2 separate regions of the Homo sapiens genome follow, and region 2 is linked to region 1. Evidence: fine-mapped expression QTL. Tissue or cell type: whole blood. Region 1 holds a variant in brackets; the other region holds the start of a gene. All regions are shown on one strand. Distances are from middle to middle.

Region 1 (2,684 bases):
ACAAAATAGTCTTTTAAACCTCTTCTATTGTGAGGTAACAAACATTGAAAAGTACACAAAACAGAGATGCACAACTACCCTACCACCTGGGCAAGAAACGGGCTGCCACCTGGCATCTAGAAGCAGCCCTGTGACCCCAACCGCTATACTACACCCTTCTTCACCTCCACTGCTAAGTTCATAATCCTTTAATCTATCATCCCCACGTGTTGAAGGCAGCTCCCTTCATAATTCTTACATTCAATTCCAAAATTCTGAAACTGTCTAGTAAACTTATGAAGGGTGAGCAGATTCCCTGGAGATCTGGAAGTGATTATTTGTTCCATTTATATAGGATTAAAGCTCTGATTTGGGGCAAATCTTGCTATTCAAGCAAGAGTCAGTATGTATGAATCGAGCTGGAAGTGATCTGTTCGCCCAGATAGACCAAGACTTTATCCTGAGAATGACCCAGTGCTGCAGCAGAGGGTCCTACCCTCCAGCTCGGCACAGGAGAGGGAAAAAAGTCAGTGTGCACAGAAGGAAAGAGAGCCAGAGGCAGAAGTCTGAGCAGGGAAATTAGCCATGAGGGACAGGAGAGAAGAGGAACTCCAAAGACTGCTTCTCATCACTAGTTAGGGTAGTGCTATCATGGATGGAAATGGCAAAGAAGGCAGAGGGAGGCAGTGATGGAACAACTTCAAACTTAGCCTAACAGAGGCCCAGGAACCTGCCTCACTGAGTCCTCAATGTGCCTTAGCGTGTTTTGCCAGCTGTCATAAAAACAGCCGGGTGGAGCTCACGACTCCCAGCCCAGGCTCTCTGCAGTCCCAGCATGTTGCAGATTTCAATGTGTACAGGAACCACCTAGGGAACTTGTTAAAGTGCAGATGCCCGTTAGGTAGCCTGGGTGAAGCCTGAGACTCTGCATTTTTTCTCTTTCTTTCTTTCTCTTACACGGGATCTCACTCTGTTGCCCAGACTGGAGTGCAGTGGCACAATCACTGCTCACTGCAGCCTTGACCTCTCAGGCTCAACACTCAATCTCCACCTCAGCCTCCCAAGTGGCTGGGACTACAGCTGCATGCCACCATGCACAGCTAATTTATTGATTATTTGTAGAAATTGGGTCTTGCTATGTTGCCCAGTCTGGTCTCCAACTCCTGGGCTTAAGCAGTCCTCTCGTCTGGATCTCCCAAAGTGCTGGGATTACAGGCATGAGCCACCACACCCAGCCAGTTCTGCATGTCTAACAAGCTCCCAGGTCATAGGGATGCTGCTAGCCCAAGTCCCACATGGTGATCTGCAAAGTGGTGCCAGGGACTTCTGGCTCTGCATCCTCTCCACAACCACCCAGCCCACAACAAACCCACAGCCAAGACTCTGGGGAAACCTTGTGCCCAATTAAGTGTCCTAGAGCCAGAGAGAGAAACTGCCCTGGAAAACAATTTTAAGTCCAACTCTGCTTGAAATTTGATACTTGCTAGAGGAGTTCTCATCACTGCTGGGAAAGCCAGTCTTGCAGCATTGCAGCTTGAATCAGCTTTGAGAAAAGAAAGCAACCCGAGTCCCAGCTCCAGGACTGAAATTCACCTCTCCAAACCCCTACCCGACCTCCAGGCTTTTCTGGCTGAATGTAGAAAGAGAAAACACCCAAACAGCCCTCCAGAGAAGAAAGTT[G/A]TGCAAAGATTTGCATATTTACCCTCCAAGTGCCCAGGCCCACAATGGGCATCTTGGCTTTTGTACTGAGCTCCACAAACGTGGCCATGGTTGGTGCGGAAATGATTCTGAGTGAGCAGGTAGAAGTCTCACGTCCTGCTGTGTCCAGAGTTGGTTCCTTCCAGAGGGTTCGTGGTCTCGCTGGCTTCAAGAATGAAGCCGTGGACCTTCACAGTGTGTGTTACAGCTGTTAAAGATGTTGTGTCTGGAGTTTGTTCCTTCAGATGTGTCTGGAGTTTCTCCCTTCTGGTGGGTTTGTGGTGTCGCTGACTTCAAGAATGAAGCCGCAGACTGTCGTGGTGATCGTTGTAGCTCTTAAAGGTGGTGTGGACCCAAAGAGTGAGCAGCAGCAAGATTTTTCGTCAAGAGGGTAAGAACAAAGTTTCCACGGTGTGGAAGGGTATCTGAGCGGTTCCCTGCTGCTGCTGACTGGGGTGGCCAGCTTTTATTCCATTATTTGCCCACATCCTGCAGATTGTTCCATTTTACAGAGTGCTGATTGGTGCATTTACAACCCTTTAGCTAGTTACAGAGTGCTGATTGCTGCGTTTTTACAGAGTGCTGATTGGTGCATTTACAATCCTTTAGCTAGACACAGAGCACTGATTGGTGCATTTACAATCCTCTAGCTAGACAGAAAAGTTCTCCAAGTCCCCACTTGACCCAGGAAGTCCAGCTGGCTTCACCTCTCAATCCCCCATCTAAACAGGACACCACAACTGCTGTTGGGAATTGGGTGATGACCTCTCTAGCCACTTACTGCTGGATAGGGGCGAAGAAGGGGCCCTGCACTTGTAGTGTCCTTCAGAAGGGAACTCTTTAGGCCAGTCAAAGGGCCAACGGGTTGGTCCAGGGGTCCTTGGTGGAAGTTGTTAGTTGAGTTCACTTGGGGTTCCATTTGTAAGACCATCTGTAGCTTGATGGCCTCGATCCTAGAGGAAACAAATTTGACAAGGAGGTTAAAAATACAGGGCCCAAAGGTGAGT
Region 2 (2,684 bases), 110 kb after region 1:
TCAGCCTCCTGAGAAGCTGAGACTACAGGTATCACTCCAGCTTTAGACACAGTTATAACTTCATGCAATCAAGCTGTATACTCAATTATTATCAAACCAACAACAAAGCCTCTGATATTGAGTCCATGTCCCTAACAGACGACCCTTCTGTGTGTACCAACCTGGCCACTCAAGGTGTATCATTTTCACAAGAGATTAGCTCTTTGGATTTGGACCCAGGAGGTTCAATTGGCAGAGCAACCTCCAAGTCAAGAGGACTCTCATGGAGGAAGGAACTTGCTGTTTTACACAAAGCAAGTTCCCAGCTTTAGGCTCAAGTTCAAATTCTATTACTTGGGGACAAATGAATTTGCCCAATAGCAACAATTTTTACAAAAGTTACATGGAAAAATATCTGGGCTAGTCTGTTCTGTATAAATTTTTCCAGGAGGGAGCACTTTTAAAGAAAGCACCAAATGGAAAATCACCGGCATGGAGTTTAGAGAGACCTGGTGCTTGAGTCACTACCAGGCAGATGGAGTTCCCAATCTTGCATAATTAGGGGAAAGATCGGAGGGTGATGGAGCAGAAAGAGCAGTTGGGGTGAGGTAGAGTATCATGAAGAGAGGTTGTTGGAAAGAAACCAAAATTGTCTTCAAGGATCTTCAAGTGACTTTTCTTAGGCTATCTTGGAAAAATGTGTGTTTCTACCTGCCAATTAGGGTGATCAATTTACTATTTTGTACCTTCTAATTTGAAATACTGGAAGCTACAATATTAGAGTCAACTTTTTCTTCTGTGGTTTTCTGTCTGTTCACTTTTCTTCCTCTAGAGAGTTTTGATAAGTTACTGTACTGGAACTTACTGCTTTGATAGAGTCTCACTTTCCAAAGACTGATGAAATTTGTCTTACTGATTCTGAATGGACAGCCTTACTTTCCAAATTCTTCTGAGAGTTCTGGATCAAGCCCATCAAGGCTTTCTAACCTCAAGAACATCAAAGGATGCTGGCTTTTGGTGGAAGGCTTGCTGAACCACACCTAGTATGCACAGACACAGCTAACACCTAGAGTGGGGTGCAAAGAGAGATCTAGAAGGCTACAAAAAGTCTGGGCAAACCCATATTTTGTGAAGGTGCTTTGCAAAAGGATTGCAAGCCATTTTTCTGGCATGCACCTTTGTCTAAGAACAAAGTGCGGTAAACTATATGTGTAGTCAGTATGATTCACATAGATTAAGGACAAGGTATTCGTCAGATTCCCAAAGAGCATCAAACTGGGGTTGGACAACAAAGGCATTCTTCTGGGCTCTTAATGAAACCAAAACTTATTTCTAGTCTATGTATTTATGGGATGCCTGTTATTTTCGCTAAAGCATTCGCTTTCCCACCAGATACAGCAGCTGAGGAACTCCTTTCTGCCACGCGGGGCGCGGGCGAGCGTTGGGGGCGGAAAGAATCCGCTGCCACTAGGACCAGGCGGAAGAAGCATCCCCGCCGACCCTTGGGGAAGGCCGCCGCGGCACCCCCAGCGCAACCAATCAGAAGGCTCCTTCGCGCAGCGGCGCGCCAACCGCAGGCGCCCTTTCTGCCGACCTCACGGGCTATTTAAAGGTACGCGCCGCGGCCAAGGCCGCACCGTACTGGGCGGGGGTCTGGGGAGCGCAGCAGCCATGGCAAGCCGTCTCCTGCTCAACAACGGCGCCAAGATGCCCATCCTGGGGTTGGGTACCTGGAAGGTAGGTGCTCGTGGGGGCGCGGGCCCGGGGCTCGCCTCACACTCTCCGCGCGGCCTGTATTGGCGAGGGACCCCGAGTGACCCTGAGCAGCTCGCCCCGCGGACGCCCGGCGTGCTGGGAGCCACGCGCGGGCTTGCAGGGTCCCCAGCGGGCTGGGGTCGGCCTTGCAGAGACCGGGGGCCTTGGCTCCCCGGGTTGGCCCTGGGCGTCAGGGCAGCATCCTGCGAGTGGGGTTTGGGAGCAGCTCACGGGAGCCCCCGCCCTACCGCGGGCAACCCTTGATGGGCGGCCCACCAGTCCGCATTTTGGGTCCTAGCGGGCGCCCCAAGCGGCACAACGCGAGAGGGAGGCGGGGAAAGTGGGCTTCACAGACCGGTGGACCTCGGGCGCAGACAGGGACGTGGAGCCGTCGGCAAGGTGTGGGAGCGCAGACCCAGCCTCCTTTCCCTCGAGGCACCTGTAGCCCGGTTGCCTCACTTGTAAATAGTTGGTCTCAATCGTTTCGATTCTTGCCCTCCCTGAGGAATAAGCATCTCAAGCCGGTAGAGGGCAGAGAATTAGGTGGCGCGAGTTTGCCCGGACCCAGCTGTTAACAAGGCGCAGTGCGGAGCTCCTCGGCCAGGCGCCGCCTCGGGGTGCCCTGGGTCTGGAACTCGGGAGAAAAATCTGGGCACCCCGTAGCTAGTTGATAATTCAGGAGGCGCCAAGGTTAGCATTTTCCCTGTAAAACCTCAACACCACACAGCGTCCCCGAGAAGTGCCTAGCCGGATGAGAATGACAATAGGACATGAAACATCATAGGATATGAAAAATGATAATATGATATGAAAAACCAAAAATAATAGCCTGAGCCTGATTATCTGAAAATTGAGCAACAAAGGTGGTGGTATGGGAGCTGAGGCAAAACCTAGAATTTTTAACCTTCTAAGTATTGCATATTATATTCCACAGCCATAACCTGGGTTTC

What was found. PIP is the estimated chance that this variant, and not a neighbour inherited with it, causes the effect.
Region 2: AKR1B1 starts here. The variant in region 1 is fine-mapped to the expression of AKR1B1 in whole blood (TOPMed, PIP above 0.99).

What each region holds. Positions count from the first base shown.
Region 1 is chr7:134,564,544-134,567,227 of GRCh38, reverse strand. AKR1B15 (aldo-keto reductase family 1 member B15) reads right to left here. Exons shown (of 12, transcript NM_001080538.3): 3 at 2,459-2,630. The coding sequence starts at 2,608. Among named protein-coding and RNA genes, the nearest start is that of AKR1B15, 17 kb to the right of the region's middle. The variant G/A (reference allele first, on the strand shown) is at 1,660.
Region 2 is chr7:134,458,029-134,460,712 of GRCh38, reverse strand. It overlaps AKR1B1 (aldo-keto reductase family 1 member B), which reads left to right and starts at 1,613. Exons shown (of 10, transcript NM_001628.4): 1 at 1,613-1,716. The coding sequence starts at 1,651. RefSeq lists a silencer at 1,814-2,003.